Linked DNA regions of Homo sapiens. The protein of the gene in region 6 interacts with the protein of the main gene of each other region in a pairwise test. Each region holds a gene or a part of one and is shown on either strand. Other genes may lie near its edges.

Region 1 (4,567 bases), on a different chromosome or scaffold from region 6:
ATAATGTGATGATGTATAAAGGAAATGTTGTTTGGAGTCCTGCTATTCAAATATAACTCTTACTTAGCTCAGAGTCATTCCACATGTCAACTAGATAAAACATTTTCAAGCATTTTGAAAATGTTAATTTATTCCCCGATTTCATTCTTAATAATCATGAATATTAATCTGTATCTGACAGTAAGCAAAAGCTGGATCCCAAAATCCAGATGGCAGAGAATACTTCAGAAAGACACCATTCTCTTCCAGCTGAGGATTTCTCACTTTAGAGAAGAGTTACGATACTATCTGCAAAGCTTTGTCAACTGGCATTTTACACTAGGCAGAGAAGAAATGAGGTAAAGGGGAAGTCACTAGTAAGCTGCAAAATCTGGGACATGCAAATAAAAAGTCCGTTTTTGGAGAGTAGTTACCATCATAAAATAATACACCAGAACGAAAACAAGATGCAAAACAACAGGTGGAGGTCTTTCTAAATGCAGTTAAGAATAAATTCAGATAAAACTGTACAAAATAAAGACATGAGGCCCTTTTTCATTATTATTGTGAAAATGATAAAGAATCAAAAACACTTAAATCTTACCAGCAAAATTCTAAGTCATGATCAGATGCAAATTATTTGTCACAAATGAAAATTAAATAATTACAATGGGGGGTTTAAGAAGAAAGACATATTATAGTAGATTTGAGATAAATGTATAGAAAGTATATTTATATTGAAAACAAGTGTGTTTTTGGACATCTCTGCATAATATAAAAACTAAGAAGGCAGAAAATGACGCTAGTCCAGTGATCAGCAAACTTTTTCTGCGAAGGGCCAGATAATAAATATTTCAGGCTTCGTGGATCTGCTGCAACTACTCACCTCTACTGTTGTAGTGCGAAAGCAGCCAGACATAAGTAAACAAATGAGCACGGCTGTCTTCCAATAACATTTTATTTATGGACACTAAAATTTGAATTTTATATAATTTTCACTTGTCACAAAGTATTACTCTTTTGATTTTCTCCAACCATTTAAAAATGTTAAAACCATCCTCAGCTAGTGGATCACTAAAAACATAAAGATTTATCCCACAAGCCAGTGTGCTGGCCCTTGCCCTAGACTATTACAGTTCAATAAAATAAATCCTTCTGCATTCAACCTCAACTATTGTTCATCATTAATACGTGTTTTAAGCCACTCTACAGAAAACAGAGATTACTGTCATCTATAATGCAGTTTCCTAATAAAAGTAATTCCTGCCTCTCAGAGCCATTGAGAACATCAAATGGGAATCTTCACCAACGCCTTACCAAAAAGCTTAAGATACTATCTGTAAATAGCTATTATCCTCACTGCTCTAGATACTTCCTTAAGATATGATGGCCTGTATATGACAGCCAGAAGTGATGCGAATGCTCTTCAGGTGTCTTCATTAGATAATACAACAACTCAATGCCACCATCTTGCAACCACAGGATTCTCTAAGTTTCCTCTCATCCATATTATCTACCCTCCTTGAAGTCTCATCAATTGCTGATCAAAGAGGAATTTTCCAAAATTAGAATATTTGCATAGATGATGGAAAAAGAGTACTCTGGGGGATCCCTCAACAACCCACAGAACACAGGATAAGCTTGGCTTCACTGTTACATCCTGAAAAGCCAAACCCAAGTCATTAATTTTATCTGATACACGGTCTGGTCTGCTCCAAAATCTCATAGGATCAAACTGCAGAAATGATCACTACAAAGAGTTTGTCCCATCACATACTTCTCTTTTATCATAATAGTATATTAATATCTGCCTGAGCTGCAATGTAAATTGTCTCTGAAAATATAAGGGCTATCAATAAACAAACAGTGCATTCAAAGAGATCCATGAATTTATGTAACAATCAAGAGTCAAGTCCTTTGTTTTTAAAAAGTTCTATTGACATGGAATTCAATATTAGCTTAAAGCCAGATACTGTCTAATTGCTTACTACATCACTTTTTGAGGAACATTAATGCAAGTATTTCTAGTCCTAATTTTGCAATATCCCAAAGTATCAATGATATCAAGTAGGGCTCAAGAATCTACAAACATACTTTTAAAGTTTTTAATTAAAAAATGTATTCTGGATATGACACCAAAAGCTCATATCCCAAAAATCATTGCAAAGACTAATGTCAAGAAACTTTCTCCCTATGTTTTCTTCTAGGCATTTTACGGTTTTGGGTACTGCATTTGGGTCTTTAAGCCATTTTGGATTAAGTTTTGTACATAGTGTGAGGTAACGGTTCAGTTTCACTCTTTTGCACATGGATATGCAGTTTCTCCAATACCATTTATCGAAAAGACTATCCTTTCCACATTTCTATTCTTGGAACCTGATCAAATGTGATTTTTTTTCTAAAAAAAAATTTGCTTTCTAATTTGTCACATTGTTCTATGTGTCTGAAAAAAAAAAATGTATTCTGGCCAGCATGTCATAAATACGAGAGTAATAAATGATAAAAGAAAATGCTGCTCATACAAAACTAGTATTATGTCTATATGTATGAAAAGCATGGACATTTTTACATAAATGTACAACTTTCCATTTATAAGTTGATGGGGCCTATGTGACTTATCAAATTGTTAATACAAAATAATAACAAAAGTGTTATCTATATTTCCTTCAGTTCTTCCTTATCAAAATTATATACAATGAACTCATAGTCTAGTGAAATACATGGCAAGGTCCCAGCTGTCTTTTCCCTTATATCACACAGGATAGTTAGAAAAATCCAGATCAGACTGGAATAATAAGCAAAATCATATTTTTCCTAATACTGTTCTTCACTGGCTCTCAAACTCTAGCCTTTTTCTGAACTGCATCTTCCCATCTTTGCATAGCTCCCTTATTACATCAAGATCCATCTCCAGCACCCTGGTTTGCATCTCAGGCCCTGGTTCCAGCCCCACAATACTTTCCCAACCAGATCTGAACTGAGAAAAAGACATCACTACTCACATCCCCAGTTCCTGTTTTGCCTTTTTTCAAAACCAAGTGATTCTTTCCCCTCTTCATGTTTCAACTCAGGAGCTCAGTTATTAAACACATCCCCAAATATCCTACAACCCACAGGTAGATTTGTTTTTCAGTAAGACCCCAGAAGTAACATATGCTTCTAAGTCAACAGCACATGCTATAGGCAAAATGCAATCATCTTTCATACTACTAAGAAATTTCCCTAATATTTAAGTTATCTAATATAAATTCTTTGAAAACCCTAAATTAGGGCAAGTGGCTACTACCTATAAAAGATAAGAACTTAAAATGAATATGTGAGTTTAAAAAGTAAACAGATATTAAGATGTGGAGGCAAAGGGATAGTCTGTCCACTAACACTCCCCACCAAAGGAGTCAGCAGTCTTCTCAAAAAGCTCCCAATCTGACCTCCAAGCAGAGCTACTTCCTCTGTGCTTTTAATGCAGCAAGCATGTGCAAACCTCCTTCACAGGTGTTATGTACTGGACTGTCGTTATTGACAAAGATAGTCTCATTAACATCTATATCCCAAGAATAAAGTTTATACTCAATCACTGAAGAGGAAGGGCAAGGGAATTATTCAGACTTCTTTTCGTGGAAAGGGACTCAAGAAAATACTTAAAAGCACCCTTCAAATTCAGGATTAAAGGAAAGACGTTAAAAAGAAGGAAGTTCTGGAACCTGAAAAACTAAGAGTTTTTACCTCACCTTATCATAGGTAGCTGACGTAAGGTCATCATAGTCAGAAAGCCAGGGGTGGGCCTCAGCATCCCGTTTTGCCATCTCCTCCAACTCTGCCTGCAACTTGTCCCAGAAATCGACATCAGACTGTAAGGAAGGGAAAGCAGATAGAAAAAGGAGATCCATCATGACCACCCCACCCCACACTCAGCTCTGCTGGGATTCTCTAAGGCAGCAGTTCTTGAATTTCAATATGTTTAAGAATCATCTGAATAAGTTTTTTAAAATGCAAATGGCCAGATGCTATCCCCAGATACTGATTTAGTAGTCTGGGGTGATGGCCAGAAATGTAATGTAGTGCAGTGCAGTGCAGTGCAGTGCAGTGCAGTGCAGTGCATAGTTTAGTTTAGTTTTTTGTTTGAGACAGAGTTTCACTCTCGTTGCCCAGGCTAGAGTGCAATGGCGTGATCTCATCTCGTTGCAACCTCCACCTCCCAGTTTCAAACATTTCTCCTGCCTCAGCCTCCCAAGTAGCTGGGATTACAGGCATGCGCCAACACACCACGCTAATTTTGTATTTTTAGTAGAGACATGGGGTTTCTCCATGTTGTTCAGACTGGTCTCGAACTCCTAACCTCAGGTGATCCACCCACCTCGGGCTCCCAAAGTGCTGAGATTACAGGCATGAGCCACCATGCCTGGCCCAGAAATCTGCATTTTTCAACAGCACCCACCCCATCCCCAAGCAACTCTGACACAGATGATCCAGGTCCACTATGAAATACAATTTGCATCATCTTTGATGTTCATACACCCACTCACTCCAAGGAGTGTTTTCTTTTGGGGTGTCTGCTCCTGCACTATCTGCTCTCACCTCTATAGCTGAC
Region 2 (4,567 bases), about 38 Mb from region 6:
ACTGACTCCAATGTTGAAAAAGTTGTACTGTGGGTAAAATGCTATCAAATAGCTTCTCATGGTACAGAGAAATCTTTCCTGAAAGGAAAAGTTAATCGATGCATCAAACTTCATTGTCTTATTTTAAGAAGTTACCACAGCCACCTTAAACCTTCAGCAACCACTACCCTGATCAGTCAGCAACCATCAACACCTAGGAAAGACCCTCCACCAGCAAAAAGACTACAACTCGCTGAAGACTCAGGTGATCATTAGCATTTTTTAGGAGTAACGTATTTTTTAATTAAGGTATATACATTGTTTTTTAGGCATAATGCTGTTGCACAAAATAGACTACAGTATAGCAAAAACATAACTTTCATATGCACTGGGAAGACAAAAAAATTATGTGACTTGCTTTATTGTGGTGGTCCAGAACTGAATCCACAATGTCTCTTAGGTATGCCTGTATATGAAGAGCTGACTAGAGAAAAGTTTCTCAGAAACACAAAGCCACAGTAGAAGTGAGACAGCCTAATTTAAATAAATTAAAAGAAAAAGAAAAGAACTCTAAAAGGCACCATGCCTTTGCTGAAAAAAGCCATTTGTTTGCTAGTGTGAGTTCTGACAAAGACCAAATTCTGTCTTAAGTACATGTTAGGAGCTTGCGTTGAAGTTCTCTAAGGGCAGTTTAACCACACACAGTAAGAGATTACATCTTCCATTCTAATTTGCATTCATTAAAATACAATTATTAAAATGGTGAGACAGTCAGATGTTTGGTCTAGATCTTCACAGTTGCTCATGATTTCATGTTCCTGAAAATATAATCTGCACTTTTCTGAAAAAGGAAAATGAAAGAGGATGGGTGACTCTCAGTCAATCCATGTGATTTCTGCATGAGGACCTGTGAAATGGAGAAAATTGGATTTCCCAGAACTGGCCCTGCCACTGCTCCCTTCCGATCCAGATTGAGCATATGTGTTACTTGGTGCAATTGTTGTCATAGAGATGATTCTTGTTTGTTAAATAAAAGAACCAAATAGTTACAGAAAAGTAGACGATGTAAACTGTACATGTATAAATAAGTTATTTCCCTTTAAATGTCAAATGTCCCATCTCTCCTTATCTTTTTTTTTTTTTTTGAGCTTTCTCTAATTAGATAGACTTATAGTTTTCATCAAGAAGTTCAGTAAATAAATATTTGGGCTATCTACTATGTGTAAAATGTCACAAAAATATTTAGAAACAAACCAGAAATCCATATGGATGAGAAGAAAAGAGAGGTGGTGATGATGGTGGTAGTGGTGGTCATGGTGGTCATGGTGGTGATAGGAGTGGTGGAGGTGGTAGTGGTGATACTGGTGGTGGTGGTGGAGGTGGTGGTGGTTGTCTTGGTAATGGTGGTGTTGATGGTGGTTGTGGTTATGGCGCTGGTGGTGGTGGTGGTCATAGTGGTGATGGGAGTGGTGATGGTGGTGGTGATGATAGCAGTGGTGGTGGTGGCAGTGGTGGTGGTTGTTCCTGGTAATGGTGGTGTTGATGGAGGTTGTGGCTATGGTGGTAGTTGTGGTGGTGGTGGTGGTCATGGTGGTAATGGGAGTGGTGATAATGGTGATGGGAGTGGTGATGGTGATAGCAGTGGTGGTGGGTGGCAGCAGTGCTGGTGGTTGTCCTGGTAATGGAGATTGTGGTAGCGGTGGTGGTGGTGGTGGTGGTGGTGGTGGTGGTGGTGGTGGTGGCAGTGGTCCTAGCTAAAGTGATAACAGAATGAAGATCTAGAAACCAAAATATTTTTCAACATAACATGTGATAGTAAATCTAATTCAATTGATTTGCACATATCTTAAGGAATAAAGTTGTAGAAAATGATATACACTGGAAATCCTAGATTGAAAAGGTGGTTAAAAAATAAAATGACCTCCTTCTTTGTTCCTTATTTGAAACAATTATGGAACAAGACTAAAATTCTATTCTTCCTTAGTGTTTTAAAGCCAGATCCCCTGGGCCGTCTCTGTGATTAACTGTCTTAATTTTCTAATTTAATTATACCTTCTCAGTCCCCTCCCTGCCATTACTCTAGGTCATCTCTACAATTATCTCTTTTCTGGGCAACAACATTTCCTAAATGTCTTCCCTGACCACAATTTTGCCACCTCCATCCATTAGGTCCGTTGTGCAAAGCATGATTTCTGTAAAATGCTTATATGATGAGGTTGCTTCTCTGATCAAGACACTTCAGTGGTTCTCAGCCACTTTAAAGTCTAAATTCTCTAAATGGCTTATGTGTTTTATAAATTGTTATGCATAATTGCTTTATTCTGCCAGTACTTCAGTCTGAAGTAGAGTCTATTGGCTTGATATCATGGCAAAACTCAAGCATCATCTTTCATTCTGAAAAGTGTTTTCTAACCCACTCTTACATTATTGCCCATATTCTTTTTTAAGCCATGCCCATAGATTTCTATGCAACATTTTATTGCACCCAAAATGCTTGTTTATATAACTGTCTCCTACAAGAATAGACTGTCATTTTATCCAAGGATCTAAAATTATTTTATTTCATAAAAATATTTTAGCACACAGTAGTTATGATATTTATGGAATGAATGAGTGAGTGAATAAGAGAATGGATGAATGAATAAATAAATGAATGGCACAGAACCTTCAGGTTAATATTATTTAGTCCCCACAGTTGAATGCAGCCACAGTAAGTAGCACTAGTAATCATGGATAACAACATGGATGCAAGTAAAGGAAGTGAAACCATTATTTAAAGGTGTCTGTAAACCAAACCAATACATATTCATTGAAGTATAATCCACAAAAATTTTGAACTAGGACAATGATTAGTAGGAAACAGTGAACAATTTTTGTAGAAGTACAGAATAATGTTTGAGATGACGGATATGCTAATTACCCTCATATGATTACTACACATTGTAGGTATTGAAACATCACTATATGCTCTATGCATATGTACAACTATTATATATCGATTTAAAAAACTAATTTAATTTGTTTAAGCACAGAATAAGAACATCTGGATTTAAACATATCTCCACTACTTAAATGCTGCACTGGGCTTAATTTCTTTTACTTTTATAAGCTCATTTCTTCACACATAAAATTAAATAGTCAAAGTAGGTAGACCTTTATAAATAGGGACCACATGACTCAGACATGTTCAAGTAAAATCTATGAAAAAGTTTTGATTCAAAGTCATTTAATAGACATACATTAATGGACAGACTCTCATCTTAAAGTCACTTACTCAAACATTTCAGTTAAAAAAAAGTTTTTGGCAGTTATCTATATAACCAAAGGTTATATACCACAAAGGTTTTCTTGCCTTTGTGGGTAAACACATTTACACTCCAAAATTATTATAGTCATTGGTATCTCCCTGTGGGATCTGAATACATGGGGATGCTGGAGGAAATAGTTAAGTTTCTTATTACCCATGGCTTGATAATTGAGCATTTGACCATACTAGTCAGCCATTCTCTTCAGAGAGGTGATGTGGGTTTGACCACACTCAAAAACTAGTCCTAGCCATTTGTACTGGAGGGAGCACAAGAAAAAGAGTAAAAGCTCTTAAAACAAGTCTGTCTGTCATAATATCTCCTTGGGGCTTCTCTTTGGTCTGAGAGCAACTGTTGCAGCTTTCAGGTAAAGCAATGAACTCATGACGTTCTACCAAGATCTTGCCAGGCTTCATGATTCAGTAACAGCTCTGAAATAAGGCAATAGCATCCCAATTCTTTGAAAAAGCTCACTTTGTGCTTCATGAGAGTTTAGCTCTGCTTCAGAATATTACCTAAGAATGAAGAAATATTTACTCACTAACATGAAAACAGAGAATTGAGAGTTGGAATGTCTCTCTCAATTTCCATGTTAATTTTTCCTTGTTATTTTCCTTTAAGAATATTATGAACGTATCCACAAAGGATCACAAAGTCAGTATGAATTCAAGTAGAGAAATAAACGAACCTCTCAAAATGCCCTTTGCAACAATTGGCAATGATGTCAGTCTTCTCAGCCATTTGATATCTTCCCAGCTGATAGATGGGTCTATTGCTTTAGCCACATATGCAGCAAGTCCACTGTCGTCTCCAAAATTTTCCTCAGGAGAAAATGATAAAGTACTGGTTTCAAAATTTTTCATCCTAAAATAAGAAATGCATAAAATGAGAAATTTGCCAAATTAGAAATACGTTTCCAATGATTCATTCAATGAAAAATGTTACCCTTTTCAAATCAATTGGCTGTTCACTGCTCATTTATCTATAAGTCAATTGCACACATATTTTCCATATTTTGATGTAGGACTCTAGACTAAATGTGATACTCTAGTGGTCTTAATCAGTGACCTAAATTTTATTTTACATCTTAGGCTGTGTTTACACAAACAAATCTGTTTCAAGAAAAAAAAATGTGTTCATATTCAAACATCTCATTTTTAAGCCAGTTTATGGATATAGACAATAGAGTTGACACGATTTTCAGCCAGCAATGCAAATTAATCACAATTTAAAAAGCATTTTTATGGTGCATTATAATTTACAAAGGGTTTTGTATGCCAAAA
Region 3 (4,567 bases), on a different chromosome or scaffold from region 6:
TTTTTTTTTTTTTACAAATTGCAGTTTCGTGGCAACCCTGCATTAATTCGAGCCATTTTTCCAATTGCATGTGCTCACTTTGTCTCTGGGTCACATTTTGGTAATTCTTGGAATATTTCAGACCTTTCCATTATTATTGTATCTGTTACGGTGATCTGTGATGAGTGATCTTTCATGGTTTTATTATAATTGTTTTGGGGTACCACAAACCACACCCAGAAAAGAAGGTCAACTTAATCGAAAAATGTTGTGTGTTCTGACTGCTCTGCCCTTCTCTCATCTCTCTCCCTCTCTGTGGGCCTCCATATTCCCTGAGACACATTTACATTGAAATTAGGCCAACTATTAACCCTACAATGGCTTGTAAGTGTTTAAGCAAAAGGAAGAGTCACACATCTTTCACTTTAAATCAAAAGCTAGAAACAATTAAGCTTAGTGAGGAAGGCATGTTGAAAGCTGAGGCAGGCTGAAAGTTAGACCATGTGCACCAGTTAGCCAAATTGTGAATGCAAAGGAAAAATTCTTGAAGGAAATTAAAAGTGCTACTTCTCTGAACATATAAATGATAAGAAAGCAAAAGAGGTTTATTGTTAATATGGAGAGAAAGTTCTTATGTTCTGGACAGAAGATCAAACTAGCCACAACATTCCCTTAAGCCAAAGCCTAATCAGTAAAAGGCCCTAATTTTTAATTCTTTGAAGGCTGAGAGAGGTGAAGAAGCTCCGGAAAAGTTGGAAGCTAGCAGTGGTTGGTTCATGAGGTTTAAGAAGCCACCTCTGTAACATAAAAGTGCAAGATGAAGCAGCGAGTGCTGATGTAGAAGCTGCAGCCAGTTATCCAGAAGATCTAGCTAAGATCATTGATGAAGGTGGCTACAGCAAACAACAGATTTTCAATGTAGATGAAACAACCTTCTAGTGGAAGAAGATGCCATGTAGGGCTTTAATAGCTAGAGAGGAGAAGTCAATGCCTGGCTTCAAAACTTCAAAGGACAGGCTTATTCTCTTGTTAGGGGCTAATGCAGCCAGTGACTTTAAGTTGAAGCCAATGCTCATTTACCATTCTGAAAATTCTAGGGCCCTCAGATTTACGCTAAATCTACTCTGCCTGTGCTCTGCAAATGGAACAACAAAGCCTGAATAACAGCACATCTGTTTATAGCATGGTTTACTGAATATTTTAAGCTCACCGTTGATAGCTACTGCTCAGAAAAAGATTCCTTTCAAACTGTTACTGCTCATTGACAATGCACCTGGTCACTCAAAAGCTCTGATGGAGATGTACAAGGAGATTAATGTTGTTTTCATGCCTGCTAACACAACATCCATTCTGCAGCCCATGGATCGGGGGTAATTCTGACTTCCAAGACTTATTATTTAAGAAATACATTTTGTAAGGCTATAGCTGCCATGGATAGTGATTCCTCTGATGGATCTCGGCAAAGTTAACTGAAAACCTTCTGTAAAGGATGCACCATTTTAGATGCCATTAAGAATATTTGTGATTCATGGGAGGAGGTCAAAATATCTACATTAACAGGAGTCTGGAAGAAGTTGATTCCAACCCTCATGGATGACGTGGAAGGGTTCAAGACTGCATCAGAGGAAGGAACTGCAGATGTGGTGGAAATAGCAAGAGAACTAGAAGCGGAGCTGGAAGATGGGACTGAATTGCTACAATCTCACGATAAAATGTAGATGGCTGAGGAGCTGGTTCTTACGGATAAGCAAAGAAAGTGGTTTCTTGGGATGGAATCTATTTCTGGTGAAGATGCCATGAATATTGTTGAAATCACAACACGGGATTCAGAATATTATAGGTACTTAGTAGAGTAAGCAGTGGTAGAGTTTGATAGGATTGACTCCAATTTTGAAAGAAGTTCTACTGTGGGTAAATGCTATCAAACAGGATTGCATGCTACAGAGAAATCTCTTGTGAAAGGAAGAGTCAACTGATGTGGCAAACTTCACTGCTGTCTTATTTGAAAAAACTGCCACAGCCACCCCAGCCTTCAGCAACACCACCCTAAGTCAGCCACCATCAATGTTGAGGCAAGATCCTCCACCAGCAAAAAGATTACAAGTTGTAAAGGCTCAGATGATTGTCAGCATTTTTTTAGCAATAAAGTATTTTAAAATTAAGATACGTATATATATTTTAAAACATAATGCTATTGCTCAGTTAATAGACTTCCATTAGATGATCATTATAATGTAAACCTAACTTTTATATGCACTGGGAAACCAAAAAATTCATGTGACTCACTTTATTATAATATTCACTTTATTGTGTGGTGGCCTGGAACCAGACCCACAATATCTCTGAGGCGTGCCTGTACTTAGTTTAAAACTGACTTTCATATGGTCTCTATTCAGACTGTTCATGAATGATGCTCCTCTATTTTAAAGACTATCAGAATCTGGCTGTGTGTGGTGGCTCATGCCTGCAATCCCAATATTTTGGGGGGCTGAGGTGTGGGGATCAGTTGAGGCCAGGAATTTGAGACCAGCCTGAGCAACACAGTGAAACCGCATCTCAATACAAAAAATTAGCCAGGCATGATGGCACATGCCTGTAGTCCCAGGTACTTGGGAGGCTGAGGCACAAGAATCGCTTGAACCTGGGAGGCTGAGGTTGCAGTGAGCTGAGATCACACCACAGCCCTCTAGCCTCAATGACACAGCGAGGGAAAAAAAAAAAAAAAGGAAAAAAGACAGAGCAAGAGTCTGTCTAAAAAAAGAAAGAAAGAAGCCAAACTTAAATGGTTAGCAGCAAATCTCTGGGTAGTTTTGAAGAAAAGACGGTTTAAGAAAGAGAAGTTATTTTGATGATAGTTCCTAAGAAGGAAGGTTTTGTTGTCATTGTTGTTGTTGTTGTTTTTAATATAGAGAAAAGGTCTCGCTGTGTTGCCCAGCCTTCTCTCAAACTAGCTCAAACTAGAATCAAAAACTAGCTCACTGAAGAACATTTTGGCAGTTTGGTCTTTATGTGTATGAAACACTGGTAAATAAATCATAGTATTTTGGCAACCTGATACTTTAGTGTTGAGAAATTTTGATGACATCTGATATAGTTGGTAAGTTTGTCCCCTCTAAGTCCCATGTTGAAATGTGATCACCAGTGTTCCAGGTGGGGCCTGGTGTGAGGTGTTTGGGTCATGAGGGTGGATCCCTTATGAATGGCTTGGTGCCCTCCCTGTGGCAGTGAGTGAGTTCTCACTCTATTACTTCATGCCAGAACTAGTTGTTTAAAAGAGACTGGTATCTCTCTCTTGCTTCCTGTCTTGCCATGTGACACACTTGCTCCCTTTTTCCTTCTGCCATGATTGTAAGCTTCCTGAGGCCTCATCAGAAGCAGATACTGGCACCATGCTTCTTGTACAGTCTGCAGTATCGTAAGCCAAAACAAACTTCTTTTCTTTATAAATTGCCCAGCTCAGATATTCCTTTATAGCAATGCAAAACAGACTAATACAACATCAGTGTAAAACGCAGAACCATGGGAGATCATAAAAATTAGCATTTCCCAATCATGTGGGAATATTAACCTTAATAAACAAAGACAAATATTTTAATTAAAGCTTTGTAATTAAAGAGTGTGTGTGAAATATATTACGAATATAATGTAATTATACACTTTCACATAAAACCCAATATTCTACCACTTGAATTTAGACATCTGGATCTCAGATTTTCTTGACATTGCAGTTAAGAAGAAAATAATATAGGTTTTTATTTTATTTTTTTAAAGGATGTATGTTATAAAGTGGCAACTGGTCATTTCACCAGAATTAGTATTTTAAATAAGGAGCAGCATTTAATATTTCCCAACTCGTAAAAAATAATTACTTTTTGTCAGCTGAAAAGGGGACAGGTGGGTGTGTAAATTAAGTGTTGTAGTTGTTGGCATATTAGCTGCCTACGTCTCTGTTGGAAATCAACAAGGCAGAAGAGCATGCCAGGGAAAAAGCCTGGGGAGAGGAGCAGACTGTGGCTAGTGAAGAGCAGATAGAAGCAGAGAGAACTAGGAGTAGCAGAAACGAATGAGAAGGGCAGGGATAGAGCCACCCCCACCCGCCCTTTGCAAGGTGTGCTCCAGGTGTGTGGCACGTGGCAAAGAGTCCTCACATTTACACTGCCCTTGAGAAATGCATTCTAAAAGCAGATGGAGTTTGTGCTGAATGTGTTCCAAGGCGCCCCCCCCGGCCCCCCTGCTTTAATCCCCTCTCACCTTGTCCCACACCTCCTCAGTGACATCCATTATGCTTCCAAAGAAAGGGTTGACAGCAGCATTGGAGACTAGGATATCGATACCTCCATGAAGCTTCACAGCCTAGAGAGAGGGGTAAGTTCTGGACCAGGGCTGCAGTAAGTAAGGGAGGTGCATTTACCCATGTTGATAAAAACTTCCTTCTGGGCAAGGAGCTGTGGCTCATGCCTGTAATCATGGCACTTTGGGAGGCCAAGGTGGGAGGCTCACTTGAGCTGAGGAGTTTGAGAGAAGCCTGGGCCATGCAGCGAGACCTTATCTTTATATTAAAAACAACAACAACAATGACAACAAAATC
Region 4 (4,567 bases), on a different chromosome or scaffold from region 6:
ATGAAGCAACTAATAGTGAGATAGACACAGAAGAAGGGTCTATTACCTGGATAGAAGGGTATGTTCGGTTGTTGTCTGTGCTGTGCTCCCCTGGAATGCTGCCTGCTGATCGCCCTTCACATTTGTATCTAAAACGCATTCCCCTCTGCCTGGGTTGTTCAATTATCTCTATATACGGGTTATACGCACCTGAAAAGTTTTTAAAAAGGAGGAGGTCAGTGAGATTAATATAGCAATTAATAATGGATTTTAACATTCTGTTTTTTTTATAACAGCAGACTAAAACAAAGATTTTTTTCCTCCTAACATTAAATAACAAGACCGAAATGTTATCTTGGAGATTGGCTGGGAGAGGCACCTTTTTTTCCCATTCAAATTGAGTCCCTATGTAGTGTCAAAACAAGTCATTCAAACCATATTGACTGGTTAGCACTTTATAGCTTAATATCTATAGCTAACGTCAATATGAAGTTCTGAGATAACCACTTCAGAGATATCTGCCTCCCACGTGAGACCTAGCAGAAGGGTTTCCCCCAAGATTCCCCAAGAAGGGTAAAGAAGGCAGTATTCAGAAGTAAAATATCACACTCCTAAAGTGAGTTAAATATATTTAACTGCTTGATTTTACATCATATTCATAATACTGAATGAAAAGACCATTCACTGAAAATGAAAATGCATTTAAATCCTTGCAGAAGCATATGTAAGTTTTTTATATCTCCATTCAAATATTAAAGGACTTACACACAGTATATCAAAACAAGCCCCAGGAGGGACTTTAGGCTCAAAGAATGTGCAATCAGTCCCATGCAAACCTTTTCTAAAGACATAATAGAGAAAAAAAAGTATTCACTTTCTATAATAACTAAAATTCAAAATATGCATCTGCAGAATGAACTGCTGCTACATATAATAACATGGACGACTCTCAAAATGATTATGCTGAGTGAAAGAAGTTAGACCAGAAGAGCACATACTGTATGATTCCATTTATATGAAACCCTAGGATATGTAAAGTAATATACAATGAACGATAGCAGATCACTGGTTGCCTAAGAACAGGGATATATGGTGGATAGGAAAGGCAGGGGGGACATTATCTTGTGATGATGATTCCAGGGTTGTATACATATGTCAAAACTTGTCAAATTGCATACTTTAAAAGTACAGTTTGTTGTACATAAATTATATGTCAATAAAGCTATTTAAAATGTATGCAACTTTACTTTTATTATCCAAATTGTGGGGGAAAAGGTAAATAGACACTCAACTGTACTTGCAAGTAGGGGAGTTAATAGGGGTGTGAAGATGTTTTCCATTAAAAAATAATAATAATGTGTCCCTTAATCACTTTAGTGCTGACTAAGGCTTATCCTGTTAGAACGCAAGCAATCCTGAGAAATGGTAACACAGTGGGCCTTATCAGAACAGTATGGAGAAGAGGCCTTTAGAATCCTACCCCAGCTACTTCTTAACAGTAAGACCAAGGAAATGTGATTAAAATTAAAAATCTCTTAGTTTCCTCCTCTGTAAAATAGGAATAATCATAATAGCACCTACCTCATTGGGTTGTTGTGAAGATGACAGATTATATGTGCTAAATTCTTACGAAGTGTCATATATACATACACATTCAATAAATGTTGTCTACGTGAAAAAATGCTCATCATCACTGGCCATCAGAGAAATGCAAATCAAAACCACAATGAGATACCATCTTACACCAGTTAGAATGGCGATCATTAAAAAGTCAGGAAACAACAGGTGCTGGAGAGGATGTGAAGAAATAGGAACACTTTTACACAGTTGGTGGGACTGTAAGCTAGTTCAACCATTGTGGAAGTCAGTGTGGCGATTCCTCAGGGATCTAGAACTAGAAATACCATTTTACCCAGCCATCCCATTACTGGGTATATACCCAAAAGATTATAAATCATGCTGCTATAAAGACACATGCACAAGTATGTTTATTGCGGCACTCTTCACAATAGCAAAGACTTGGAACCAACCCAAATGTCCAACAATGATAGACTGGATTAAGAAAATGTGGCACATATACACCATGGAATACTATGCAGCCATAAAAAAGGATAAGCTCATGTCCTTTGTAGGGACATAGATGAAGCTGGAAACTATCGTGAGGACAAAAAAACCAAACACCGCATGTTCTCACTCATGGGTGGGAATTGATCAATGAGAACACATGGACACAGGAAGGGGAACATCACACACCAGGGCCTGTTGTGGGGTGGGGGAAGGGGGGAGGGAAAGCATTAGGAGATATACCTAATGTTAAATGACAAGTTAATGGGTGCAGCACACCAACATGGCACATGTATACATATGTAACAAAGCCGCACGATGTGTACATGTACCCTAAAACTTAAAGTGTAAAAAAATAAAAAATAAAAAAAAATGGTGTCTATTATTTCAGATGCTTTCTTGAAAACAATGATTTAGTGATACTATGGTGGTATCCCAACTGTCACTCTAAAGGACCTTATAGAAGAGCAAGGCAAACAACATATATTATTAGACTACAGAAGGAAGGAAAGCACTAACAAAATTCTGCGGAAATAAGAGCGAAAGAGTCAGGAATGCCCAACTGTGTCAGTGGAAAAAGAGCGGTTAATGAAGCAAAAGAGCGGAGGAAATGAAGAGGAAAAAGGTAGGTATTCTAGGGAAAAGGGAACAGTGTGTCCACAGAGGAGGGTTTATTTAAGAATCACCAATGTAAATGGAACACACTTTCTCTCTTAAAAAGAGAACTAAAAGTCAGAGCACACTTGGCAATGTGGATTTCATTTTATGTGTGATGAAATCAATGAATATTTTGATGCAGGCAAATCACATGATCAGATTTGCATTTTAGAGTAAAAGTTTTAGTCACAGTGAACAGATAGAAAAAAGAAAGCAATGTCATCAGTTTAGAGACCACTATAATAATGTGGGCAATGATGAGGGTATCTCTGATATATGGCAGTGATAAGATGAATGAAGGATTATTTAAAAGATAAAATTGACAGCACCTGGTGCCTGAACAGTAGGGTTAAGAGAAATTAAAGAATCACTGATAGCTCAGAAATTAAAGAATCATTGATGATTCCATGGCTTCTACTTTGGGTTACTGAATAAAGTATTACTGTAACTTTCAATTTTATTCTGTATGGTGTAAACTCCCTGTGTTTGAATCTACTACCTATTTGTTTATTCAGAAGATGAAGAGCCAGAGAAAACTGACTTTAACCTAAACAAGTTCATAATCCTTATTTCAGTTTTACTCAAAAACATAAGATATGCAGATGAGTATTTCACGATTTTATCCTTGCATATTTTAAAGATTTCAAATTCACATTGCAATTTCAAATATTTCATACCCTTATATATCCTTGTAGGAGTATTTAAGAAAGTATATTTTCCTCTTAAAAACTGTTAAAATCAACATTACTTTTTAAGTCACATTTTAAATAATTTATGTGGCTGAAGTAAAGGCCAAATAAATCCCTGCCCACTACTTATTTAAAGGTGTCTTGGTGGGAAACTGATATAAAATGACATCGTTAATGATAAGTGTTTAACTTTGGGAAGAGAGAGTGTGAATAAAACTGCTAGGTTCATAGTGAGCATTCAAATATTTCACTGAGGCTGGGCATGGTGGCTCATACCTGTAATCCCAGCACTTTGGGAGGCCAAAGTGGGTGGATCACTTGAGGTCAGGAGTTCCAGACCAGCCTGGAAAACATGGTGAAACCCCATCTCTACTAAAAATACAAAAAATTAGCGGGATGTGGTGGCAGGCACCTGTAATCCCAGCTACTTGGGAGACTGAGGCAAGAGAATTGCTTGAACCCAGGAGGTGGAGGCTGCAGTGAGCCAAGATTGTACCACTGCACTCTAGCCTGGGTGACAGAGTGAGACTCCGTCTCAAAAAAAAAAACAAACAAAACACAAAAACAACAACAAAAAAACCCAAAACTTCATTGGTTACATGACACTTCTTTAGATTGTTTACAAAAAGAACAGAAAAGTAGTTGTTGAAAAGATTAAATATTTTTAAATAGTAAAAATTACATAAATATCAGTTATCATATAATATTGAGTATTTAAAGTCCTTGGAATTTATTTTTCCTACTGCAGAAGCTCTTAATTGGTAAAAATTAACAAGCTGGGGGAATGTAGAGTATTACAACCAAGTAACACAGTATACTGTAATACTCTACATTCCCCCAGCTGGAAATAATCTCCCCTCCTTTAAACTACCATAGTATTCTGTGTATAGCAATTATTCCAAATAACTGTAATTTAGGGAAAACTTACCGTCTTATTTCTTCTTGAGATAAAGCTACTTGTTTTATTTCTTCAAGCTACTTGAAGGCAGAAATTGTGTTTAACTCATCAGTGCCTTGTACAGAGATATTCATTAAACATCTATTGAATGAATGACTAAAAAATCTTAAGGTCTTTTGTTTATACAAGTTATTCAAACGTTAAATAATCATATAAGTGATTAGTCAGATTTTTTAATTAGATTCCACTACTAAGGAAAAAAAAATAGTGCTTTATAGGT
Region 5 (4,567 bases), on a different chromosome or scaffold from region 6:
AATAATAAAATATCAGTAGTGGTTCTACTTGTTGATTTTTCAGAAGCTAAGAACTATATGAATCTATACCATTATATACTGTAAAATCACAAATATATGTAATATATACATATATACATATAGTGATATATGTGTGTATATATGCATACTTATACATGTATACATGTGTATATATACATATTTATGTGTGTGCATATATATGTATACATCCCCAAACTATCTTAATTTAACTTTAAATCCAGTAATACTTTACAATAGAACATTCTTACCTCTGCCAGAAAAATTACTAAGCACCAAATTAGCACAAAAATTAAGCTCTTGTGGACAGTAATATATCGAAGGTATGTGTTCCATGTAGTCACTGCTGGTATGCTCTCCATATCATCAAAAAAGCACTCCTGAATAAAAGAATTATGGCTATTACAATAAGACAGTACAGTTTCATGCCACCATTGTGGTTTTATTTTTAATATATGAAAATAAAAGAATAGTATTACTTGAATCTAAGTGTATTTTAACAAATATAAATCATTATAAATGCCATGTATGATGTCATTCTATAGCCAGAATAATGTCTACTGGAGCAACACAGCTTTATTAAAAATGAGAAACATCGTAATTTTTCAAAATTCTAAAAATGTATCACTGATTATATAACTGTATTATTATTGGACAATTTTACCATTAAAGGCTTAACAGTGGCATACCTTTTATCAAATGAATGATACCATCTAAATGAAGTTTCCCAGAACTCTCTTTGATTTAACCTGTTTCTTCAGGGGTCCATGGACAAGTACAGTTCAGTATACTTCTAGCTATAAAGGTCTTCCAATAGACTGAAAGCTCATTTGTGTTTGAACATTTCTTAGTAACTTAGGACTTTCTCTCTTTCCAGCTGTGATTTAAATTACATAATTCTCATCCTAGGCATATTCCTCTAGAAATCTTTGTCTTTTGGCATAGAAATACATTTCAAAAATTTGAAAAAGAGAGATTCCAGACAGTCCAAAGGAAAAAGAGTTTTGTTTCTCACAAAATCAACAAAACTCATGGGAAAGTGCTATGAATCACAAAGAAGGGCTCCTATGGAATTGGGATATAGTGCACTGGTTAGGAGTATGCATTTTTTGAGTCAGACAGATCTGGATTTGAACCCAACCTCCACCATTAACATCCTAGGAGCTGCTTGAATTCAAGCATGTTGCCGAACTCTGAACTTTAGTTTCCTTATCTGCAAATGTGAAAAATTTTAAATACCTTCCAGGGTAGTTGTGGGGACTAAATATATGCCACCTAGCACTAGATGCAATCCATTAATAGAAACTATTATTAGTCAAGGATATCATTCTTTACAACTAAATTTTTAGGCTCAGGACTGAGAAATTCATTTAGATTGATATTAAACTATATAGATGGGCTGGGCGCAGTGGCTCAGGCTGGACGTGGTGGCACACGCCTGTAATACCAGCACTTTGGGAGGCTGAGGTGGGTGGATCACAAGGTCAGGAGTTCAAGACCAGCCTGGTCAACATGATGAAACCCCTTCTCTACTAAAAATACAAAAATTAGCTCGGCATGGTGGTGCATGCCTGTAATCTCAGCTACTCAGGAGGCTGAGGCAGGAGATTAGCTTGAACCCAGGAGGCAGAGGTTGCAGTGAGCCGAGGTTGCACCATTGCACTCCAGCCTAGGTGACAGAGCGAGACTCCATCTCAAACAAACAAACAAACAAACACACAAAAAAACACTATATAGATGAATTATCATTTAGGAAACCTTCATAAAGTTTAGAAATACTAAAATTACACACTTTAGGGATCTATTTTATTCCCTCATTTTACAAAGAAGGAAACTTCTGCCTACAGATGTTAATGGCTTGTGTCTTGTCAAAGGTCATATTATTCACAAATGATCTATACTATTAAACATATCAATTCATTACAACCCTGCCCATGGCTCATTTCATCCAAGGCATTAAGTTTTCTACTAAAACAACAAAAACTCTCCTTTTTATATTATTTCCTGTTTTAAAAATAAAATGCTTTTATTCTTAAAACCTAATAGAACAAAATTTCTGTCTGAAGATTGGCACTAGTACATGTTAAGCTTATATACATTCTCTAAAAGAAATCTTTTCAGAAACCCAATGTATAAAGCAAACTCACAAGATAAAAAAAAGCCCACACTAGCTAAATTCAGGCAAGACTGATATACAAACCAGAATGTGAGTTAGTCCTATCAAGAGGCTAAATGTTTATATACCTTATATATGCTACTTCCATACAGATTATTTTGCGAGCTATAAATAATGAAAGCTACTATTTATTTATACAGTTATTTATACTGCACCTCTTCCCACAGAGGGTTCAAGATGGTAATAAAGCAAATGCTTTCTAACTTATAGTCACAGTTATCACTGGCTTAGTAGAGGACCAAAAACTAAATCCTTTCCCATTTTATGGGAAGAGATATGTCCATTGCAAAAAGAAATCATTTGTTATTTTACATTTTAACGTTGCTTGTATAATTAATGAACTTCATACTTTCTGAGTTTTAAGATACACCTTATCCTAATCCTATGATTTTAGTAAATTTTGTTACATGCTACATATTGCATTCTACTCAATTGCATTCTGTGGGGTGAAATACCCCCAAGCGATGTATACCTACCTTTAAGTCTTCTTCGTTAATTTCTTCACTTATTTCCAAGCCAGTTTCTTGAGATAACCTTCTTGAATATATATCCAGTTCAGTCAAGTTTGCCTGAGGGGCCAGTGACACTTTTCGTGTGGATGCTGTTGTCTTTCGGTGAATGTTCTGACCTTGGTTAACTGAGTGTGTCATCAGGTTCAGGACAGACTGCCTCCTTCGTGCCTGAAGCGTGGGGCCAGTGCTGATCACGCTGATGCGAGGCAGTATCGCCTCTCCCTGCTCAGAATCTGGTACTAAGGACAGCCTTCTCTCTAAAGGCTCATCAGAATCCTCTTCGATGCCATTCATTTGTAAGGGAGTCTTTTGCACAATGGAAAATTTTCGTATAGAGTTGATTGGATTGAGAATAGAATTCTTCCTTTTTTCCCCAAACTCTCCAGTCTGTTTAAAAGATTGTTTTTTTGTTTCTGTCCAGGAGACAGGAGCATCTCCTTCTAATGAGAAACGGTGTAAGGTCTCAGTTAGGATTGAATTTCTTCTTTCTGCACTAAATTGGTCGAAAGAATCACATCCCATGAGTTTTGAGCTAAAGTCTGGCTGTAGATTTTGGAGTTCTGAAAATGTCCCATAAAAATAGCTGCTACCTTCATGCAAAATTAATATTTTGTCAGCTTTCTTTAAATGTTCCATTTTAGAAGTGACCAAAATCCTAGTTTTGTTAGCCATCAGTTTACAGACACAGCTTTAAGATATAAAAACATATAAATATCAATTTTATAAATACTTTATTGCAATATGTCTCGTATTTTAGCATTTTGTTAATGTTTTATTGCATATAATCTCTATCATACAATTTTATTATATTTTAAATGATTCTATAAGTACTCTGTAGTAATTAAATTGGTACCTTGTGAATTCTGATAGCATGAAATAACATGCTATATTGAAAAGTTGCATGTTAACAGACTGAGAATGAAATTAAATTTCCTATATTAAGTAGATATTTGACTTTGAGCAAATCATTTATCCTCGGGGTCTCTCAGTTTATTTATCTAGAAAATGAGGAAATTATTAGATGATCTTTAAGGTCCCTAGAGATTTGTACTTCATTTCTTTTAAATGTCAGAGCTTTGTTGCTCTTTAAATTTTCTATTAATTTCTTTTTTACATTTTAGGTTGACCATCAATTTATTTCTCAAGTGTTTACATTAAGACTAATCTGTTTCACTAAAAATAAAACAGCAATAATAACAACTGAGAATTCGATAATTAATTTGACTCTCCTCAAATAGAATTTTAATCTATTCTAGAAGTAAATCCTGACTAGAATCATCTAAGACATATCAGTTTTTTTAGGCATTAAAATGTCATATATCATATAGAAAGACACATTGTTCTAGATTATACTGTAACACACTAACACAATACAAATGTAGTAAAGTTTATATTGATAGAAGTTACTTTTCACAATCTCAGGGTTGAAAAGATAGTATCTTGGATATTAAATTTAACTAAATTCTAAGAAAGGTACTTCTAGGAATAACCCAGCCATTTTATATACATATACATCTTTATTGCTTAAAGTCTTTATTTTTAGAAGAGTATAATAACTGTTCTCCTAATAAACTACTTGATAGTCCATTAAATCATTTTGAAACTTTGAAATCAAGCCATATAACTGACTGTCTGTCTGTCTAGGGAATTTCATGTACATTGGACCCTAACAGGAGTTCCAAGGAAATATAAGTCCTGAGCTCTGTGTGACTGAGGAGGAGATCTCCAAGGAAGTATTGAGGTAGATGAGTAGTCTAAGCATATTAAACCAGTAAAACACTTAGCATATATATTTTCTTAAGAAGGTTACTATCTAAGGAGAAGACAGAATAAAATACTAACACAAAAAGTAAATAAAAAT
Region 6 (4,567 bases):
CTGCTCCTTGTGGGCTTTTGTTCTTCCATTCTTAACATAGCTCCTGGTGCGGAGCGCTGTGCTAGGTTCTCAGTGTGCTGTGACCTCTGTGCTAGAGGTGTGGAGGTAGGGCAGCTTGGGTTGGAGAAGAGAGCACCAGCCTGAGAGTCAAGGGATCTAAGGCTTCTTTTGTCAACTGAGCATAGGGTCAATAAAAACAAACCAAAGATGTAGGGCCTAGCTTCAGTTTTGTCCATAATTTACCATGCAGCCTTGTGAGGTTACCTCCCCGCCCTACAGTTTGGTTTACTTCAGCTGTAAAATGGAGAAGGGTGGGACCAAGGGTATTTTAGTGGGATGATCTCTACAGCTTCTTACAGCTCTGGGGTCAGATAATGTAACTTAAAACCTATGTGTGAGGCCGGGCGCGGTGGCTCACGCCTGTAATCCCAGCACTTTGGAGGCCAAGGCGGGCGGATCACGAGGTCAGGAGATCGGGACCATCCTAGCTAACACGGTGAAACCCCGTCTCTACTAAAAATATAAAAAAATTAGCCAGGTGTGGTGGTGGGTGCCTGTAGTCCCAGCTACTCGGGAGGCTGAGGCAGGAGAATGGTGTGAACCCGGAAGGCGGAGCTTGCAGTGAGCCAAGATCGTGCCACTGCACTCCAGCCTGGGCGAGCACTCCAGCCTGGGCAACAGAGCGAGACTCTGTCTCAAAAACAAAAAACCTATGTGTGGTGGCTCATGCCTATAATCCCCGCACATTGGGAGGCCAATGCGGAGAATTGTTGGAACCCAGGAATTCAAGACCAGCCAGGGCAATAAATCGAGACCTTGTCTCTACAAAAAAATAAATAAAAGGAAAATAAAAGCAAAACCTATGCTAAAAAACAAACAAAAAAAACCCTCACTGTTTTCTTTCCTTCCCTGTTACCCCCAGAGCAGATGCCCTCATGTGTTCTGCGTAGATCCCCAGCTGAGAAGAGTTTGTGGACCTTTACAGTATGTGATTTGTATTAAGAAAACCATGGGGTTTCCCCCTTCATTTTGTAAATATGAAAGTTATCCCTGTAATGGTAAATACACTTTTTCATACTGTCCCGTGTCTCTTACTCCTCATCCCTGAGGAGTATTGATTGGCCCCCCTCTTCTCGGCCCCCAGTCACTGCTATAAAGTATTTGAATACTTACCTTGGGCTCAGCCAGGTTCTTATCTTTATGCTAGTTGGGAGTAAATATGTGCTTTGTTTCTTTAATTTGTTTGTAAGTACCAGCCTTTTGATATTGTAATCCTTCCAGCCTAGTGAAATACCTGGCTGTTTTCTTTTGTGTGGGTGGGGGCATTACTTGAACTCTGAATCTCTTCATCCTGTGATGGAAGAATTCAATGAGTCTTTGCCAGTAAAGTATCTAGTGCAGGGCTTGGCATAATCTAGTTTTCCATAAATATTATTAGTTTTTGATGATTAACTTATGGGAATAATTAAAATTTGCATGATACAGAGCATAGTTGTGTGCATTATCTTGTTTAGTCTTCATAAGTAAACATGGGTGGCAGGCATTCCTGCCATCATTCTTACCTAAGGAAACTGGGACCTGAAGAGGTTTGGAACCAGCTCCCACAGTGCCCAAGGAGGCAGAGCCAGGATTTGAACCTGGTTTATGTGTCTTTGAGTGCCAAACTCTTTCCTGCTTCTTTGCTTCGCTCTTGGGCAATAATTCTAAACAATGAGAGAGCTGCCAGGGTACCCATCCCAGGTTCTGGGGAAAAGATCCTCTTTCTTGGAAAGTCTTCATCCAGGAGCAGCGTGAAATGAGCTGTGTCCAAGCCACCATTTCAAAATAAATAATTATTTGGCCGGGCGTGGTGGCTCATGCCTGTAATCCTAGCACTTTGGGAAGCCGAGGCGGGCGGATCACCTGAGCTCAGGAGTTCGAGACCAGCCTGGGCAACATGGTGAAACCCAGTCTCTACTAAAATACTAAAAATTAGCCAGGCATGGCGGCATGTGCCTGTAGTCCCAGCTACTCAGGAGGCTGAGGTAGGAGAATTGCTTGAACTCAGGAGGCGGAGGTTGCAGTGAGCTGAGATCATGCTACTGTACTCCAGCCTGGGCGACAGAGCGAGACTCTTGTCTCCATCAAAAATAAATAAATAAATAAAAATAATTATTTGTGCCCTTGCTTGTGTCTTGAAAGGCTGCAAGATAGCTAAAATAATTGGTAGTTATTATGGGAATATTAAAAGTCAAAGGACATTAGGCCAGTAGTAATGGGATTTGGGAGAAGCGATCATGTCAAAAAATTTGGCTAAGCCATATTGTTGCAGTTTCATACAAGGTTTAGTTCTGAGCTTCCTGGCTGCAAGGCAAAAAGGGGAGAGCTCTTATCTGTTTGTGGTGTGACTCTGCCAGCTATATCAGATATTAAAACCAATGCTGTTTTTTGGCTGGGCATGTGGCTTATGCCTGTAATCCCAGGACTTTGGGAGGCCGAGGCGGGCAGATCGGCTGAGGTCAAGAGTTCGAGACCAGCCTGGACAATGTGGCGAAACTCCATCTCTACTAAAAAAAAAAAACACACACAAAAATTAGCCAGGTGTGGTGGTGCACACCTGTAGTCCTAGCTACTCAGGAGGCTGAGTCAGGAGAATCGCTTGAACCCTGGAGGTGGAGGTTGCAGTGAGCTGAGATCGTGCTACTGTACTCCAGCCTGGGTGACAGAGCAAGACTCCATCTAAAAAAAAAAAGGAAAATTAGCTGGGCGTGGTGACCTTAGCCCGTGATCCCAGCTACTCGGGAGGCTGAGGCTGAGGCTGAGGCAAGGAGAATTGCTTGAACCCGGCGGCTGGAGGTCGCAGTGAGCTAAAACTGCGCCACTGCACTCCCACCTGGGCGACAGATCGAGACTCCATCTCAAAAAAACAAAACAAAAAAGAGATGTTTCAATTACATTTTAAAAATAAAAGATGTTATGGGGGAGGGGGAGGGTTGGTCCTTGGCCATTTATCAAATCAGTTCTTTTTCTAAAAGCCCAGGAAAGAATGTGAATTAGTTGGGTTTTTGTTTTGTTTTTAGTTTTTCTCTACAGAGGTAAATTTAGAGCTTGAAGAATTCAGAACAAGGTCAGCAAACATTCTAGAAAGGGCCAGATAGTAAACATTTTAGGTTTTGCCAGTGAAAGCAACTATAGACAATATGTAAACAAATTAGCATGACTTTATTACAAAAAAATTGTATTTTAAGGCAACAGTTTCCTCATCTGTACAATGGGGGTAAGAGTGGCTCTACATAGTTATTGTGAGACCAACATGAGAAAACATACCCTCCTGTCCAATGCTGTCAGGCACCCTGCATCACTCCATAATCATTAACTCCCTTCAATATGCCTCAGGGCCTACCTGCTCTGTTCCAATAACAATTTTCAAGAATAGGGCTGGAACTCATTCACACTGAAAGGTAGACCAGAGTACTGAAGTTTCTGTGATCCTCCTCAGGAATCTGCACTTTAGCTTACCTGCAGACCAAGGATTGGATTAGAGGTTTTTTTTTGTTTTTTCCCCCCAAGTTTGGTGGTAGGGAGGAAGACTTCATTCCCAGTGTCTGAAAGCAGACTGCACAAGTAACTTTGTCTAGTGTCTGGACTCTTGGTAAGCCCTTCTCAAATGCCTTTAACCTTGAGGAGCTCGCACTCTGATAGAAGTGCTGCTGGTGGCAGTGCCTGATAACAGAGAGCTGAGCAAGCCAGTTGACCTCAGACAGTGATGTTTATTGCTGTTGATTGAGCCCTGGTGCCTGGTTGACTCCCCATTTGGATCAGAGTGAAGGAAGCAACACTTCTCTAGACCTGCTTCTTTCATCTGAAGGTTGAAAGTCATCCCCAAGATGTCTCATGGCCCAGATGTCAGGGTTCCTCAAGGTCAGCCTGACTCAGACAAAGTGAGAACTTCAGGGAAACCAGGGAAGTTCTCTTCCTCTCCAAATCTTCCCTCACCTGCTTGTTGTTGGCTGCCTTATCCCTGGCCAGTGCCTTCTACTCTGGTGGTGGTGGTCTTGTTGTTTTTGAGACAAGGTCTTGCTCTGTCACCTAGGCTGGAGCACAGTGACGCAGTCATGGCTCACTGCAGCCTTGATCTCCTGGCCTCAAGTGATCCTTCCGCCTCAGCCTCTTGATTAGCTGGGACTATAGGCACATGCCACCATGTCCAGCTAATTTTTATTTTTTATTTTTTGTAGAAACAGGGTCTCCCTGTGTTGCCTAGGCTCTTCCACTCTGCTTTGGAGCAGAGACACCTGACAGTGAAGGACCAAATGGCTTCCATATACATCAGGGGTGAAGTGACTGACAGTGGCCCTTGCCTGGGAGAGGCTGAATATACAAACAGACAATGGCTAGACCATGTAGAAAAACAGAACTCTGACGCACAATAGCAGCAACCAGCACAGGAAGCCAGCCTACTATCCACAAGTCAGACTTGTAGGAAGTCAGACCACTATCTTTACCAACCAGTCCAGCAAGCCAAATAATGACCACTGTAACAATTGGCCTCCAAAGCCAGGACTTGATTAATAACTGATAGCTGCCC
Region 7 (4,567 bases), on a different chromosome or scaffold from region 6:
CCCCTGCCAGGGGATGTCTGTTTTGGTGACCGTGGGGACACCAAAGAGCTGCCTCTGGGACAGGGATGTGCAGCGTTTCTGGGCCAATGGGATTCTTAGGAAGTACAGATGTGTTTCCAGGCGTTAGTTCATGGGACATCCTTCTGCCCCCAGCACAGGGCAGGTGGGGATGGGACCTGGGGAGCATCGTGTGTGGGTTAAGGGCAGGGAAGGTGGGGAAGCCCAGCACTGTCCTACCCGAGTTAACACTCCAGACAGAATTAGTAAAAAGACAAAGACAGACACGCAGACGGCTTTTGCTGAGACCTGGGGCGGGCCTGTTCCCTCTGGGAGGGCTGTAGAGTGCTGAATGAGACCCTGAGTCCCTACAGACTGGAGAGAAATGCGGGAGCAGGGCCCTGGGGCCACCTACCCTGAGGAGAGAAGCCGAGAAGCGCCTGGGGCCAAAACCCTGGCACCCTCGCTGACCTCATTGCTCCAGCTGGGAAGCAGAGACTGCCCGGCTGGACAGCTCTTCCCCCGGGAAAAGCCCGGGCTGCAGGCCACTGGGGCCCAGATCAGAGAGGGAGGGAGACGAAGGCGGCTGGGCGGGCCAGAAACCTGCTCACAGACCTTTCCCACTGAGGACCACAGGAAGGTGAGCTGCCCGTGTCCATGAGTGAGCTCCCTCGTGAGGGTCCTGCCAGGGTCATCGGCTCTCAGCCCCTCCCTGCTGCGCCCCAGCTTGCGGGAGGGCGGTGGTCGCTGGGGCCTCTCTGGAGGATGCAGCGTGGGGGCGTTTGCGTGACCAGAGCTTCCTCAGGCCTAGGAGGGCCACGGCGGGAGAGGAGTGCTGGCTGTCCTCTGGCTGAGGAGGCCAGGTGGGGTGGGGGAGGGGCTCTGGCGGGTACCTACCTGGTTCTTAGCCTGCCTGCACAGTGTATGTTTTAAAGCCTCAGAATCTAAGGTGGAATTAAGCACATCTTTAACTTCAAATGCTTCCTCAGCTGCTCTGCGGAGGTCCAGCCCCTTCCCAAAAGTCGGCATCGGCTCCAAAGCTAACAGACCGCCTTCGTGGTCCTCAGCACACCTGCACCAATGACCGGGGAGAGGGAAGGCCTGCTGTCAGCAGCCTGGCCTTGGCCGCCTCTCTGATGCTGCAAGCCCAGCTCCGGGCCTGCATGCACGCCGCTGCATCTCTGCCAGCCACATGCACAGGGAGACAGACACACGGACACACAGACGCCTGGACGGGAAGGCACACGGATGCAGGAGAGTGACGGACAGAGGTCAGGGAGGGGGTGAGTGCGTGCACACGCATCAGGCAGCAGGCAGGGGGCTCAGGTCTTGCCAGTGGAGGGTGGAGAAGAAGGCTTCAATTCTCTAAGACCCCAGGCAGCTCAGAGAGGCCCGGGGCTCCCTCTCCCAGGACTCAGGGGCAGCATCCAGGCTGGAGAGGAAGTGCCACCTCCGAAGGGCCTCCCCAAGGGCATCTGGGAATGCTGGCAGTGTCGCCCAGGCCCGATATTGGTGGCGAACACTGAGGACATGGGGAAGTGGCCCTGGCCGGCACAGAATGGTGGGTGCTTGGCCCCCGTGTGCCCACGGCCCTCTAGTGGCTGCACGCGCTGTCCCAGGCTGACAGGCAGCTCTGCTGCAGGGCCGGGGGCCTCCATGTCTGCTCAGTGCAGGGAAATGCCTTCCCCTCCACACTCTGCTTCCAGCCTCCAGGGCCCCTGGGGGTGGGTGGGGGGGTTAAGGGCCCCTGACCCCGTTGCCCCTGGCCCAGCCTTGCCCTGGCCTGTGTGTGGAGGCCCTGAGGTGGCTGTGCTGGAGTAGGGGCTGAGCCAGGGATGGGCTCACGAGTGGCTGAAGAGGGAGGTCCCCCTCGTGATGGACGCCCACGTTCCCTCCCTGCCCCATCCTGGAGCACACGGCTGCCCCCACCTTCGGGTGTGGTCAAAGCCCACGGCCAGGGAGGCGGCTGGCTCCTCATCCTCCTCATCCTCGTAGGCGGCCTGGGGCTCGGGTGCGGGGGACACGGTGTCATCCTGCGACTTCCCGGCCAGGCTGTCCTCATCGTCCTCCTCCAGGTCATCGTCGTCCTCCTCCTCCACGTCCTCCTGCTTCTCACTGGCTAGGCCTGGACACTGGGCACTGCCGTCCACGATCTGCATGTCCGCCCTGAAATGATGCAGGAGGAGATTGACTGAGTTTGGGTGTCTCTGTCCTTCCCATGGACCCCCAAAGGCTGGTGACTCCGCTCTGCCCCCACTGCCTCCCCCGACAACACTCAGCCCCCTTCCTGAGGGAGCTCCCGCGGGTCCCTGGGCCCAGCCACTGACTCTGCAGAGTGAGAGGCACGGAGGCCTGGGGGCGATCCCGGGAGAGGAGGGCAAGCGCTCGGGGCGGTGGGGGCAGGGCAAGGCCCAGCAGCAAGCTGCTATGGCCGGGAGGACACCAGGGCCGGGGCGGTGTTGGGGTGGAAGCAGTGGGCAGTCCTGTGGGGAAGCTGGACCTGCACTGGCACGGGGGTTGGGCAGTGCACGAGGGGCACCCTCAGGGCAGACTTCAGGGGGAAGGAATTCAGGCTGACAACTCGAGGACGTGGGCACTGGCCCGAGAGCCGGGAGCCCTGGAGGGCTCTCTGGGATCTGGAGAGTGAGGGCCCAAAGCCTGCTGTGAGCAGTCTGAATGCACCAGGACAAGCTTGCTTCGGAGCCTGTGGGGGGACTCTTCTGCAGCCCAGGGCTCTCCTGACTTCCCTCAGGGTCACTGCAGCCCGGCAGGACCCCTCCACTCCGGTTCCTCAGTATTAAATAAAAAAGAACAAAGCGTGCATGGGTGTGGCTGGGCATTCTCATTTCTTTCAGGAAGAGCCACTAGAGTTTGGCTCATCTTCATGTTCACGACCAAGAGCTGTGTCTTGGGTGGGCTGGGCCCCAGGGGAGCTGAGGGCCCCCGGGCACATGCTGGACATACTGGTAGAGGGGCCCAAGCAAAGGGCAGGGCACGCAGTTTCTGGACTGCCCATGCCCAGAGCCCCAGGGCCACTCTTCCTTGTCCTCACTCCGCCCGGGGGCACTGCCTCCCGCTGCCCTGGGAGGTATCCACGGTGTGGGTGAGATGCAGGGGTCCTGCTCTTGGCATCCAAGCAAGAAAGTGACAGCGTCTCACGGCGACCGACCTCCGTGTCTCGGACTCGCCTGTGTGCACGGGAACTGGGCTTGGGGAGGCCACAATTTCCTGGCTCTCCACAGATGGGCCACGTGTCTATCTCTTGTCTTTCTGCCTTCCAGGACGGACAGAACCTCACCAGGTTTCAGGGCTTGAGGAGAGTTCCTCGGTCCTGGTCGCCTGTGTTGGGGGCCAAGAGCGTCCTGTACACACACCCATCTCCTCAGCCACGGAGCTGCTGGGATCCGGGTCCTGGTTCTCACCCTGGTTGTTGGTGAGGTGCCCTCGGGTGGGGTTCTGTCTTTGGGGCCTGTGCCCTCTCGATGACACGAGGACATACCCCTCCCTGTCCACTCTGAGGACGGGATGAGATGGCGCAGGGTGAGAGCCCAGGCTCATCACATGGGCATGTGCTGTGAGATCTCATCTGGTGGCCCCACGTGGGTTTGCATGGGCTTCCCACCAGCTGGGGGCAGGGACTTTGCCCTCTTTATGTCTGCTGCACACCCCCCATGCACAGAGTATTTGCTTTTTAGTGTTGGGGAGCGGAGCATCCGGCACGGACACAGAATAGGGCCCAGTGGCTGGTTTGGCTCCAACAGGGAGGACAGTCAGTTTCCCAGAGCTGCCCAAACCAAGCCCCACAGAATGGGGGCCTGAAGCAACAGCCGTGGACGCTTTCACAGCTCTGAGGCCAGAAGTCCAAGATCCAGGCGAGGGCAGGCCGGGTTCCTTCCAAGACTCTGGGGGAGAATCTGTCCCTGGTCTCTCTCCAGCTCCCGCTGCTGCCGGCCCTCTTTGGCCATCCTTGGCAAACCTTGGCACTCTTCGGCCCTCCTATGTGACCCTTGGCCCTCCTTGGCCATCCTTGGTGACCTTTGTCCCTCTTAGGTGACCCTTGGCTGGGAGGCGCATCACCCTGACCTCTGTCTCCATTTTCCCTTGGCCTTCTCCCCTGCGTGATTTTCTCCAAGTGCCCCCTTTTTAAGAGGCCGTCAGTGCCGCTGGATTGGGGCCCACTCTACCCAGTGTGGCCTCTGCTTAATCCCTCCTTAAAGACCTTATCTCCTAAGAGAGTCCCATTCTGAGGTACCGGGGGCTGGGACTTCCACCTGGGAATGCTGAGGGACATGATTCAACTCAGGGGTTCACGGGGCTGCAGGACCAGGACTCCTGACAGAACTGGATCCTTCCTGATGGCGGAGGGCAGGAGCTGGTTCTGCAGGAGGCCCAGGGAACGTTCCCGCCACCCCAGGGACTGGCTGCCTATGTCCACCTTGCCCTGTTCTCATTTTCGTCAGTGACGCAGGGGCTCTCAGGACCAGGCCAGCTGGACCCGGGGACCTTGCCTCAGCAGGACGGGTCTTCCGAGGGCCTGAGTCTGAGTCCGTCTGAGGCCGGCTGTGCCCGT

What was found.
Region 1: the proteins of ACOT8 (region 6) and PEX5 interact in binary tests that used the Homo sapiens proteins (3 or more experiments, as listed by UniProt).
Region 2: the proteins of ACOT8 (region 6) and HAO1 come close enough for resonance energy transfer, tested with the Homo sapiens proteins (one large-scale study listed by BioGRID).
Region 3: the proteins of ACOT8 (region 6) and DHRS4 come close enough for resonance energy transfer, tested with the Homo sapiens proteins (one large-scale study listed by BioGRID).
Region 4: the proteins of ACOT8 (region 6) and REL interact in binary tests that used the Homo sapiens proteins (3 or more experiments, as listed by UniProt).
Region 5: the proteins of ACOT8 (region 6) and CFTR interact in binary tests that used the Homo sapiens proteins (3 or more experiments, as listed by UniProt).
Region 7: the proteins of ACOT8 (region 6) and PRDM16 interact in a two-hybrid assay, tested with the Homo sapiens proteins (one large-scale study listed by BioGRID).

Annotation. Positions count from the first base shown.
Region 1 is NC_000012.12:7,202,692-7,207,258, reverse strand, and holds part of PEX5 (peroxisomal biogenesis factor 5), read right to left. Parts: coding exon 4,555-4,567; intron 3,828-4,554; coding exon 3,708-3,827; intron 1-3,707.
Region 2 is NC_000020.11:7,902,182-7,906,748, forward strand, and holds part of HAO1 (2-Hydroxyacid oxidase 1), read right to left. Parts: intron 4,149-4,567; coding exon 3,973-4,148; intron 1-3,972. UniProt on the Homo sapiens protein: Broad substrate specificity (S)-2-hydroxy-acid oxidase that preferentially oxidizes glycolate.
Region 3 is NC_000014.9:23,959,667-23,964,233, reverse strand, and holds part of DHRS4 (dehydrogenase/reductase SDR family member 4), read right to left. Parts: intron 4,333-4,567; coding exon 4,231-4,332; intron 1-4,230. UniProt on the Homo sapiens protein: NADPH-dependent oxidoreductase which catalyzes the reduction of a variety of compounds bearing carbonyl groups including ketosteroids, alpha-dicarbonyl compounds, aldehydes, aromatic ketones and quinones.
Region 4 is NC_000002.12:60,887,305-60,891,871, reverse strand, and holds part of REL (proto-oncogene c-Rel), read right to left. Parts: intron 190-4,567; coding exon 47-189; intron 1-46. UniProt on the Homo sapiens protein: Proto-oncogene that may play a role in differentiation and lymphopoiesis.
Region 5 is NC_000007.14:117,590,761-117,595,327, reverse strand, and holds part of CFTR (cystic fibrosis transmembrane conductance regulator), read right to left. Parts: intron 3,395-4,567; coding exon 2,671-3,394; intron 399-2,670; coding exon 270-398; intron 1-269. UniProt on the Homo sapiens protein: Epithelial ion channel that plays an important role in the regulation of epithelial ion and water transport and fluid homeostasis. Mediates the transport of chloride ions across the cell membrane.
Region 6 is NC_000020.11:45,850,340-45,854,906, reverse strand, and holds part of ACOT8 (acyl-coenzyme A thioesterase 8), read left to right. Parts: intron 1-953; exon of another isoform or gene 954-984; intron 985-4,567. UniProt on the Homo sapiens protein: Catalyzes the hydrolysis of acyl-CoAs into free fatty acids and coenzyme A (CoASH), regulating their respective intracellular levels. Displays no strong substrate specificity with respect to the carboxylic acid moiety of Acyl-CoAs.
Region 7 is NC_000001.11:3,428,468-3,433,034, reverse strand, and holds part of PRDM16 (histone-lysine N-methyltransferase PRDM16), read right to left. Parts: intron 2,164-4,567; coding exon 1,927-2,163; intron 1,070-1,926; coding exon 895-1,069; intron 1-894. UniProt on the Homo sapiens protein: Binds DNA and functions as a transcriptional regulator. Displays histone methyltransferase activity and monomethylates 'Lys-9' of histone H3 (H3K9me1) in vitro.